3 linked regions of the Homo sapiens genome follow. The main gene of each other region encodes a partner of the protein of the gene in region 2 in a complex. Each region holds a gene or a part of one and is shown on either strand. Other genes may lie near its edges. The genes, in order: SUMO2, SENP1 and SUMO3.

The links.
Region 1: the proteins of SENP1 (region 2) and SUMO2 are in contact, whole or in part, in a crystal structure (PDB 2IYD), measured with the Homo sapiens proteins. Residues at the interface, in NP_001254523.1 of Homo sapiens: Asp441, Glu446, Phe448, Arg449, Leu450, Thr451, Lys455, Asp456, Trp465, Leu466, Asn467, Asp468, Glu469, Asn472, Asn494, Thr495, Phe496, Lys500, Arg511, Trp512, Lys514, His529, Gly531, Val532, His533, Trp534, Gly600, Ser601, Asp602, Cys603; in NP_008868.3 of Homo sapiens: Gly24, Gln25, Arg56, Arg59, Arg61, Phe62, Asp63, Gly64, Gln65, Pro66, Asn68, Asp71, Asp82, Asp85, Phe87, Gln88, Gln89, Gln90, Thr91, Gly92, Gly93.
Region 3: the proteins of SENP1 (region 2) and SUMO3 are in contact, whole or in part, in a crystal structure (PDB 6NNQ), measured with the Homo sapiens proteins. Residues at the interface, in NP_001254523.1 of Homo sapiens: Gln440, Asp441, Glu446, Arg449, Leu450, Thr451, Lys455, Trp465, Leu466, Asn467, Asp468, Glu469, Asn494, Thr495, Phe496, Lys500, Arg511, Trp512, Lys514, Lys515, His529, Gly531, Val532, His533, Trp534, Gln597, Gly600, Ser601, Asp602, Cys603; in NP_008867.2 of Homo sapiens: Gln24, Ser53, Arg55, Gln56, Arg58, Arg60, Asp62, Gly63, Pro65, Asn67, Thr69, Asp70, Gln74, Glu76, Asp84, Phe86, Gln87, Gln88, Gln89, Thr90, Gly91, Gly92.

What each region holds. Positions count from the first base shown.
Region 1 is NC_000017.11:75,176,332-75,180,074, reverse strand, and holds part of SUMO2 (small ubiquitin-related modifier 2 isoform a precursor), read left to right. Parts: intron 1-3,743. UniProt on the Homo sapiens protein: Ubiquitin-like protein that can be covalently attached to proteins as a monomer or as a lysine-linked polymer.
Region 2 is NC_000012.12:48,103,944-48,107,686, reverse strand, and holds the start of SENP1 (sentrin-specific protease 1), read left to right. Parts: upstream 1-1,640; 5' UTR 1,641-1,659; exon of another isoform or gene 1,660-1,876; coding exon of another isoform or gene 1,877-2,077; exon of another isoform or gene 2,078-2,233; coding exon of another isoform or gene 2,234-2,285; exon of another isoform or gene 2,286-2,334; intron 2,335-3,743. Other genes in the region: PFKM (ATP-dependent 6-phosphofructokinase, muscle type), read right to left, coding at 232-322, 1,877-2,077. UniProt on the Homo sapiens protein: Protease that catalyzes two essential functions in the SUMO pathway.
Region 3 is NC_000021.9:44,815,891-44,819,633, forward strand, and holds the start of SUMO3 (small ubiquitin-related modifier 3 isoform 1 precursor), read right to left. Parts: upstream 2,173-3,743; 5' UTR 2,079-2,172; coding exon 2,058-2,078; intron 1-2,057. UniProt on the Homo sapiens protein: Ubiquitin-like protein which can be covalently attached to target lysines either as a monomer or as a lysine-linked polymer. Does not seem to be involved in protein degradation and may function as an antagonist of ubiquitin in the degradation process.

The sequences.
Region 1 (3,743 bases), on a different chromosome or scaffold from region 2:
GCCACTGTGCCTGGCCCCTTCAGATTGTTCTAAATAGGCTCAAAATAGAATAAGGCTTAAACCTATGTAAGTTGGGAAATTGAGTTTGAGTTTATACTTGAAAGATCAGTGAAGATAAAAACTTCCTTTAGGCCTGATGCAGTGGCTCATATCTGTAATCCCAGCACTTTGGGAGACTGAGGCAGGTGGCAGTTGACATCAGCCTGGCCACCATGGCAAAATCCCATTTCTACTAAAAATCCAAAAAAATTAGCTGGGCGTGGTGTTACACGCGCATAATCCCACCTACTCCGGAGGCTGAGGCTGAGAATCCCTTGAACCTGGGAGGTGGAGGCTGCAGTGAGCCAAGATCACACCACTGCACTCTAGCCTGGGTGACAGAGCGAGAGCATTTCAAAGGAAAAAAAAAAAAAAACTTTAGAATGTTTGAAGTATTTTTATGCCTAGTGTATTTACAATGTAATAAGAAAATACTGTGCTCATAATTGATATGTAAACCTTCTTGTATGTAGTTCCTTATAAAGATACCTTTTTTTTTTTTTTTTTTGAGACAGAGTCTCGCTCTGTTGTCCAGGATGGAGTGCAGTAGTGCAATCTCGACTCACTGCAACTTCTGCCTCCCGAGACCAAGCGATTCTCCTGTCTCAGTCTCCCGAGTAGGTGGGACTACGGGCGCACGCCACCACGCCCAGCTAATTTTTGTATTGTCAGCAAGATGGGGTTTCACCATATTGGTCAGACTGGTCTTGAGCTCCTGACCTCAGGTGATCCACCTGCCTCATCCTCCCAAAGTGCTGGGATTACAGGCGTGAGCCACTGTGCCCAGCAAGATACCATATACTCTTATTTGAAGAATTTTGCTGAAATCACCCTACATGAACTTATGAATTGTGTTAAATAATTTATAAACTGGCATCTTCTATATTTGAACACTAGTGCCCCTTCAGGATACAGGGGAATTTTAAAAGGTAATCCTTTTGGAGAACTTCTTTAGCAAAACTGCATACAAAATAGAAAATCATAGGCTGGGCGTGGTAATCCAGCACTTTGGGAGGCCAAGGCTGGAAGACCAGTCTGGACAACATAGTAAGACCTCATCTGGTTTTTTTGTTTTGTTTTGAGGTGGAGTTTTGCTCTTATTGCCCAGGCTAGAGTGCAGTGGCGCAATCTCGGCTCACTGCATCCTCCGCCTTCCAGTTTTAAGCGATTCTTCTGCCTCAGCCTCCCAAGTCACTGGGATTACAGGACCTCGTGAACCACCCGCCTCAGCCTCCCAAAGTGCTGGGTTTACAGGCATGAGCCACTGCGCCTGGCCCAGACCTCATCTCTTAAAAAAAAATTAGGTGGTTGTGGTGGCACATACCTGTAGTCCAGGCTATTTCAGTGACAGAGGTGGGAGGATTGCTTGAGCTTGGCAGGTCTAGGCTGCAGTGAGCCATGATCTCATCGCTGCACTCCAGTGTGGGTGACAGAATGAGACCCTGTCTCAAAACCACAAACAAACAGAATCATGCTTCAGTTTGGTGGTTTTGAACAGTATTCTTTTCTTTTTTTTTTTTTTTTTTGAGAGTCTCGCACTGTTGCCCAGGCTGGAGTGCAGTGGCACCATCTCGGCTCACTGCAACCTCTGCCTCCTGGGTTCAAGCGATTCTCCTGCCTCAGCCTCCCAAGTAGCTGGGACTACAGGTGCGTGCCACCGTGCCCAGCCAATTTTTGTATTTTTTGTAGAGACGGGGTTTCACAATATTGGCCAGGATGATCTCGATCTCTTGACCTCGTGATCCGCCTGCTTCGGCCTCCCAAAGTGCTGGGATTACAGGTGTGAGCCACTGGTGCCTGGCCTTGAACACTATTCTTATGCATATCTTATTTAACTTTTCTGCAATTGCAAAATTTTGCCTTTTTTTTTTTGAGACAGGCTTTTGCCCTGTTGCCCATGCTGAAGTGCAGTGGGAGGATTATGATCATGGCTCACTGCATCCTCTGCCTCCCAGGCTCAAGCAGTCCTCCCACCTCAGGCTCCCAGGTAGTTGGGACTATAGGCTTGTGCCACTGGGCGATTCTTTTTTTTTTTTTTTTTTTTTTTGAGACGGAGTCTCGCTTTGTCGGTCAGACTGGAGTGTAGTGACATAATCTCGGCTCACTGCAACCTCCACCTCCCGGGTTCAAGCAATTCTCCTGCCTCAGCCTCCTGAGTAGGTGGGATTATAGGCACCTACCACCGTGCTCGGCTAATTTATTTTTCGTAGAAACGGGGTTTTACCACGTTGGCCAGGCTGGTCTTGAACTCCTGAGCTCAGGTGACCCACCCGTCTCGCCACCTCGGCCTCCCAAAGTGCTGGGATTACAGGCATGAAGCACTACGCCTGGCTTTTCTTTTCTTTTTTTTTTTTAAGATGGAGTTTTCCTCTTGTTACTGAGGCTGAATGCAATGGCGCAATCTAGGCTTACTGGAACCTCCGCCTCCCAGGTTCCAGTGATTCTCCTGCCTCAGCCTCACAAGTAGCTGGGATTACAGGCATGCACCACCACGCCTGGCTAATTTTGTATTTTTAGTAGAGACGGGGCTTCACCATGTTGATCAGGTTGGCTGCTCTGAAACTCCTGACCTCAGGTAATCCACCTGCCTTGGCCTTCCAAAATGTTGGGATTATAGGCGTGAGCCACTGCACCTGGCCACCATGCAAATTTTTTAATTTCTTTTTTTTTGAGATGGAGTCTTGCTCTGTTGCCCAGGCTGGAGTGCAGTGGCATGATCTCAGCTCACTGCAACCTCTGCTCCTGGGTTCAAGCAATTCTCCTGCCTCAGCCTCTTGAATAACTGGGATTACAGCGCCTGCCACCTAGCCTGGCTAATTTTTTGTATTTTTATTTATTTAATTAATTAATTTTTTTTTTTTTTTGAGACAAGAGTCTCGCTCTTGCAATGGCACGATCTCGGCTCATTGCAACCTCCACCTCCCGGGTTCATGCAATTTTCCCCCCTCAACCTCCGGCTGGAGTAGCTGGGACTACAGGTGTGTGCCATTGTGCTCAGCCAATTTTTGTGTTTTTAGTAGAGACGGGGTTTCACCATGTTGGACAGGCTGGTCTCGAACTCCTGACCTCAGGTGATCTTCCACCTCAGTCTCCCAAGGTGCTAGGATTACAGGCGTGAGCCACAATACTTGGCCTTTGTTTTTAAGTAGATGATGGTTATATACTGTTTTTCATCCCTTTTATGCCACTGATACTTACTGAGCAGCACCTACTATGTGCAAGGGATAGACTGTGTAACTAAAACAGTCTAGGTTCCTATATCTCCTGAAGTGTGTTTTTTAGTAAGACAGTAAGTAATTACAGATTTGGGTAAGTATTAAAGGAAATTAAAAAGCGGTGCTTTTTTAAAGCTATTCCAGGAAGTTCAAGGGTGTAGGTTGGGGCATTTTAGGTCGGTTTTGTTGTTGTTGTTGTTGTTTTTGATATTGAATCTGGTCTGTCACCCAGGCTGGAGTGCTAGGGCACGATCTTGGCTCACTGCAAACTCCGCCTCCCAGGTTCAAGCGATCCTCCTGCCTCAGCCTCCCGAATAGCTGGGATTACAGGCGGATGCCACCACACTCGGCTAATTTTTGTATTTTCAGTAGAGGCGGGGTTTCACCATATTGGCCAGGCTGATCTTGAACTCCAGACCTCAGATGATCTGCCTTGGTCTCCTAAAGTGTTGGAATTACAGTGTGAGCCCCCGAGCTCAGACTGGAGTC
Region 2 (3,743 bases):
CTCAAGTCCTCCTTATCTGCCTGGCATCTATCACAACAAACCAGGTCAAAATCTTACCTGGAAAATACACGACTCAGTGATCAATATTTTATCAAAGTGAGAATGTGATAAACAAGGTCAGTTGACCCCTAAAATCCGTATTTACACTAGAAAGCCTCACATCCTGTATTTAGACTTCTTGTGAGAGAACCCATTCTCTGTCACTGGAGTATGATCAGGAGACAAGGGTACCTGTTCTCTGAGGAGTCCTGACTAACTGGCGAGACTGAATCACACACATGAAAAATTTCAGATGAAACTCGTCTTTATGCATGGCTGCCTCCTAGAAATAGAGACAGAGTTTAATCCAAACGAACAGAGCTGTGAAATAAGATGTCAGTGACTGACATGGACCAGCTACACTCATGACTACTTGGCCTTAGGACTTGACAATATAATATAAAAGTATCAGCACATGAGGCAATACAAATAATCTACTTTGATGTATTTGACAGGGGAGGAAACCCTGAACTCAGCAAGCTGCTGAGAGTATCAGAAAGGCTGGGGGCCTCCAGAAACTGCCCTTCTTTAAGTCTGAGCTCAGACTGTGCCTGTGGCTGTGATCTGGGTGTAAAGGACCTATTAAGGGGGCATTTCTCTAAGACTTCTACAGGGCCTGGGTCCAGAGGCCTGCCAAGCTGAGGTGCTTGACAAAAAGCCTGAATGAACAAACATATTTCTTCCCATTATGTTCTCTTAGAAAGTATGGCAGATTCCAGGTTAATCAATGTGTCCCAGGAACAACAAAGCCCTTCAAAGGTCACAGGTGATTCCTGGGTCCTTCTCTATCTCTACCCAGAAAAGCAGATCTCTAGTGGGCTCCCAAAAGCTTTCCTCACAGCTCTGCCTGTTTCAAATTCCTCCAGAGTTCTGGAAGGTTCTACATCTTGCCAGAGTCTAGCCTAATCCGTCCTCAAGTTGCTTGTTTGTTTGTTTGTTTGCTTGCTGAATGGTCAATCAAGTATGAGGTGGTGCAGAGTACAGGATTGCAAGTTAAGAAACTTGTTTCCTAGTCCTAGATGGGCCGTGCACTTAAAACCTTTGGGAAATCACTTCACTTCTCTGAACCTGGTAAGACTAAAGTATCTCCAATAACCTCTACAAGCACTAACGTTCTGTGATTCTCAATAAAACACGAGATAGCCTGAGATCGATTTAGATCTCAGGTCCCTATCTGTCGGGGGAAGCCACAGGTTTCCGCAGATTTAGGGCCACCGCGAAAAGCTGCCATGGAAACTGGAACGCAAGCAAGCAAAACTCGCCGGGCGGAACCAGAAGGCGGCGGGTAAGGGAGCAGAGGGAACAGAGAAAAGCATAGGACGAAGGGCTCACTAACAGTATTCCGAGTACGAGAAAGCGAAAAAGCCCAGACTGAAAAGGGTACTGAGAAATTACGACTAGTCTTAAATGCTCCCTTCGCTTCTCGGGCCTCGCCACACCGCGCAGGCGCCCCACTGGTCCTTAACTCTGTTCTTTGACCTCCTGCCCCAGCCCCCTCCTCTTCAGCCACCTAGCGACTCTTCCGGTGCTGTGAAGGCGGTTCCGGTTCGCGGCGGTTCCCGGGTTTTGCGTTCCGCGCCCGGCCGGAAACCCCTTCGCATGGCAGCCGGTTCCGGTTCGGTGAGTGGCGGCGGGAAGCTGGGGGAGGGGTGAGGATGGAGGGAGCCTGGTCCAGGAGACTGTGTCGGACCCGGTCAGCCGGCCCGGGCTGGACTGGGCGGAAGCGGGGAGCACTGTGGGGCCGGCGCCTTTTCCTCTGCCCCGCCCCCTGGGACCACCTCCCCTCCCCCCTGCTGTCCGGTGGCCGCGCTGTGGCCGCCGGTGGCCGTTAGGCTACCTGAGGCCGTTCCTTCTGGTCTCTCTCTCCTGGGCCGCGGAGAGACCGTCTCCCTGCCGTTACAGCAGGCCCCATCCCAGCGCCCAGCCGTACTTGGGGAAAGGCCGGTTGCGATTCCGGGGCTTTCCCGCCAGAGCTGGGTCTTCTCTGGGGAGAGCTGTTTTCACCGGGAAGCTCGGCTTTCTGTGGTACCGGCTTCATCTCCCGCCTTCCTTGAGACCCGAGTGATATTTCTTGACTACTTCTGCGTCTCACGTAAACATTTCTCCAACTCTCCTACTCTGTGGTATCTCCCTGAGATGTGATATCGCTAGTGCCACCATCAGAAAGAAACGTCTGGACCCTCCTGCTCAGGTTATGAAAATCCCCTTAACTGCCACAATTTGCTTACCTGGCTCATCGCCTCCTGGTAATTCCCTTGAACCGTCTCTTTCTTGGTGTACCCTAACGTGATCTCTGGATCTATGCCTCGTTTCTCTTTCCTTGAGCTTGGTGATTTCTGTTTATCGGTGCCTGTGCAGTATTTCCACTATCTTGTTAGCAGTAACTTGCTTCTTTATCACTTTCAAGTCAGCCTTGTTAAAGTCATTTTACTTCATATTTGGTACACTTATTATATTTGGAGTGGTGGTGATTCTTGTAATATTCATATAAAGCCTTTTATCTACTACCAACTATTTGACTGAGGGTCTTTGTTATAATTGGTTATTCTGGATGTATTAGATCTCATCATCTCCTAAATCTTTATTCTTCATAAAAATAATTTGTGTTAAGGACTCATGTTGAAATACAGATTACCCTGACTTTGAAATTACAGTTAAAGCGCAACTTTAAGCATCTCTATAAGCATGATCCCTTAACCTACTTCCAGTTTACACTCTACCACCCTTTATTTTTCCTCTCTAGTCCCTTTTAGGAAGGCTTATTCATTTTTAACTGACTTCAATTAATTATCCCAACTGCAAAGATGGTCTTCATGTCACTCATCTAATGAGTTGTCTAGAGGGAGTGGATGGGTACAAAAACAGGTTCTGCTACTTCTGGCTAAGGGAATGCAGTTGTTGACTTGCATTGCGGCTTTGGAACTCTTGTCCTTTTCTTCCCAACTTCTACATCTTCTATCAGTTGTACCAGCTCTACTGTCTTGCGGTACCTGTTTATGGATCTGGCTTTCCCTACTGGACAGTGAGCTGCTCAGTGGCAGGGACCCTTTCTTAATGCACGTAGTCGGTGCACAGTAAATGAATGTGTATGAAAGAATTTGAACACTTAGGGTTTACGGCGTTAGAGTGTTAAGGTATTTAAGGTGTTAGAGTGATTGGGAGAGATTACATGTAAAAATAGAAGGAAAGAACCTCAAACACATGACGATATAGTACAAACTATTGTACACATAATTGTTTTTCAGAACTTGGAAAAGGGTGATTTCACATGGTTGCTTTCACACCCTTCTTATATCATAAATTGTTCTAACCACATCTTGGTCCTGGATAAAGCTAACATTGCGTCTCTCTCTCTCTCTCTCTCCCTCCCTCCGCCCCCCCCCCCCCCCCCGTCTCTCTCTCTCTCTCTCTCTATATATATTTTTTTCTTCTTTTTTTAGACAGAGTCTCGCTCTGTCACCCAGGCTGGAGTGCAATGGCTTGGTCTTGTCTCACTGCAACCTCCGCCTCCCGGGTTCAAGCGATTCTCCTGCCTCAGCCTCCCGAGTAGCTGGGATTATGGGTGCCTGCCACCATACCTGGCTAATTTTTGTATTTTTCGTAGAGACAGGGTTTCACCATGTTAGCCAGGCCGGTCTTGAACTGCTGACCTCGTGATCTGCCCACCTCGGCCTCCCAAAGTTCTGGGATTACAGGTGTGAGCC
Region 3 (3,743 bases), on a different chromosome or scaffold from region 2:
GTTTGCTACAGTCAATCCTCCACCTCAGCTATCCAGGGAAGTCAGAACCATTCTCCTGCCTGACCTAAAAGCTCTTCTTTCCAGCACCACCGGGCCCCAGAGTCCACCTCTTCCCCTTCGTCAGAGCCCCAGAGGGCAGAGCTGCTCCCACATGGGCTCAGAGGGGACCCACCAGAAGCGGGGCCTGTGAGGTGGCAGCCACTCAGTCATTCTGGAATTAAACAAGTGTTTTCAACGGAACTGGAGCCTGAGATTGACCACATGGCAGAGCTAAGTGTAAATACTGCTGAGAAAATTAATATCATATGTATTTTATTACATTTACTCTTCATTAAGAGGAAGCCACCTACAAAAACATAAAGGACATTTATATTTGACCTAGTTTTAACAAGTATTTAAATATTCAAACAACCCCAGAGTGGGAGAACTTTGACTTCACTGGAGTCAAAATGTAAAAAGCAAAGGTCACCCCAAATGCCATCTGGATAGGGCAGGTTTCCCTGGAGTCTGACCACAGCAAGCAGAGTGCAGACTTCCATAGAGGCCGCGACCATGGTTCCTGACGGTTCCATCCCACTTCCCGCCAGTGTCTGGCACTGAGCCTCCACCCTCATCTGTAAAGGGAGGGTGGTCACCTCCAGGACCAGGCCAGTATCAGAGACAGCCTCTTTACAGAGCCTTCAGCTCTAGTCATCTTCCACTGGGATGTAACATAGAGGCCGACAGTGCACACCAAGGGCTTCGGAAAGGTTCTCTTTTTATGAACACTGGAGAATGCGACTACAGACCCTCCCGAGAAGGAATGGCCAGTGCACCTGAATGCAGGGTGCATACCCCAGGACTGAGACTGGAGGGAGGCACACCCCAGCATGGCAATGGGGGAGACTAAAGCCCACCCAAGGCTGGATAAGGAGGGGTGGGCGCGCATGGTGGGGGAGGCGCAATGCAGAGAAGTGGGCGCACACCGTGGGGCGTGATAGGGAGGGGTGGGCACACACTATAGGGGGCGTGATGGGGAGGGGTGGGCGCACATCGTGGAGGGGGTGATGGGGAGGGGTGGACGCACACTGGGGGTGTGATGGAAAGGGGGACGCGATGGATAGGGGTGGGCGCACACTGGGGGACGCGACGGGGAGGGGTGAGCACACACTGGGGGTGTGATGGAGAGGGCGACGCAATAGGGAGGGGTGGGCGCACACCAGGGACGCGATGATGGGGACGGGTGGGCGCACACCAGGTGGCATGATGGGGAGGAGTGGGTACACACCATGGGGGGCGTGATGGGGAGGCGTGGGCGTACACCGGGGGGCGCGATGGGGAGGGGTGGGCGCACACCGGGGGACGCGATGGAGGCGGTGGGTGCACACGGGGCGCGATGGGTGGGAGTAGGTGCACACTGAGGGCACGATTGGGGAGACACGAAGGAGAGGGGTGGGCGCACACTGGGGGACGCGATGGCCGGGACACGATGCGGAGAAGTGGGTGAATACCGGGGTCGCGATGGGCGCCCTGGAAGGACGGCAGTGCTGCTCACAGGGGCCAGGCCCCTCAGAGCGCGCCCCTTGGGGGTAACCCCAGACGCTTGTTCCCGAGCCGACTCCGTGCACTCGACACAGGATCCCGCACCCAGGGCGATGCCGGGGGAGAGGGCGACCCCAACCAGCAATGACTCAGGAGAGGAGCACGCAAAGACGCTTCGGGGACACTGCTGGGGCGGGATCCGAGGGCGCCGCGCTCTGCAGGAGCAGCAGCGCGGGGCCCGACACCGGGCGCTCAAGGAGGCGCTGGGCGCGCGCCTTCCCAGCTGGGGAGGAGACGGGCGTGGAGCGGAGGCGTGGCCAGGCCCGGAGGGGGCGGAGCTCGCGGCACAGCGCGCTTCGCGGGGGCAGAGGGGGCGCACCTTGGGCGGGCCCACTTAGGGGCGGGGCTCTAGAGGGCGGGGAGGGGCGGAGCCTGTCAGGGGCGGGACGCGGGGCGGAGTCGGGGTGGGGGCGGAGCCGGGCTGGGGGCGGGACGCCCGCGATAGACGCGCGTGCAGGCGGGGTCGCCGCGCTTACCTTGGGCTTCTCCTCGGACATGGCTGCGCGAGCGGCGCGGGGAGGCGGCGCGGGGGAAGCAGCGCGGAGCGGGCGAGTCACGCTCTCGGCCCCGCCGCTCTCCCGCCGCAACTGTGCGCGGGGCCGCGCTTTATCCCCCAAATCCCGGCGCACCCGTTGGCCGGCACGGGGGTCACGTGGCTGCGCGCGTTCACGAGGCGCGCTCCCCGGGGCGTCGGGCGCGCGCAGGCCGGGCCGCGGCTCTGGGCGGTTGGAGATGCGTCACGGGGCGGGTCCCGCGCGACCCCGTCGGGCGCGGAAGCCCTAGGGCGCTGTGGGGCGCGGGCCAGGAGCGTTTACGGGGAGCCCGGGCCCTGGGGACCCTTGCCCGCCTCCCCGCGTCGCCCGGGCCCCGACTCCTTTCCTGGGGGCCGCGTTCCTGGGGCGCCGGGAAGTGAGGCCGGGGCCGCCGCCCATGGCCGCAGGGACCTGGGGCGGAGGAGGGAGGACGCTGGGGGTGACGTTCCCTCTCAGGAGCCGCGGACAGAGCGGAGAAGGCGGCCCGCGGGGTCCCGTCCGCGGGGGCCGCGCGAATCGGGCCAGCACCCTAGACGATTGGGGGCGCCACCCGCCTCCCTGCCGCCGCGGTTTCCTGTCAGCCCCAGGCCGGGCTCCTTTGGCCAACGCTCCTACGGGGCTGCCCCGGGCCCTCCACACCCGTCCTCAAGAAGACCCGTTTTACCTGTGAAGAAACTGAGGCACTGGGAGGTCAAACCACCCCCAGGTCAGCGCTGGTGAGCGGCGCCGAGCTTGGCCAGGCCGCCACGTCGGCGAGCGCGGGCAAACCCAGGCTGGACGCCGCCAGTGCCGGCGGAACGGGGACCTCGTGGACGCGGGAAACGCGCTGGGCCGGCAGGACGGCCTCCCCGGACTTGCGGGCGCCATTCCTGGGGTGCCTGGCCCGCCCCGGCCTCCATGTCTGTGATCCCAGGGCCTCGGATGGAACGGACCTGAGGGCGGACACCCCTGCGTCCCTCAGGAGTGCCCGGGTGGTGCCAGCCGGGGCGTGGCGGAGGTCTCATCTGATGGTGAGCCCGGCCGAAGGCGGGGGAGGCCGCACTTCAGGCTCAGCTGGGAAATGGCAGGGCCTGGATTTGAACCTAAGCGTCTGAGCCGTTTCTGTCCTGCCTGGGAAAGGCTCAGCCAACTGAGCAACGTCGCAAAGCCATGGAGACAAGTCTTCATGGACCATAACTTCACAAACCGTCTTCTACTCAAAAATTCACTTTCTTGGCTAGAGCCCCCACTTAGGAGGGGGAAGGCTGCTGAAGTCTTTCGGGGAGAGGGTCTGAGAGTCAGCCCCAGTCCCAGGCAGGTCATAAGGTGTGGTCCCTTCCTTCTGGAACCTGGAGCCCAGGGCCTCAGCAGAGGATGTGGAGGTGGGTGGCCAGCTCAGACGGTCCTGGGAGGGGGCTCCGCAACCAGCCCCTTCCGAGGGGACGTGGCGCCTCAGAGCCCACAGATTGCTGGCCCTGGAAGTGCCCTAGGGCAGGCAGGGTTCAGAGAGTTATCGACTCCAAGACACCGTTAATCATAAAACAACACGACCGTAGGTAGCACAGACACACTAAACTCCGGCAGGCTGTGGATGACGGCAGCCCGCTTCAGTGTTGTGGAAGTGAGAAACACGCAGCTTAGAAATCATGA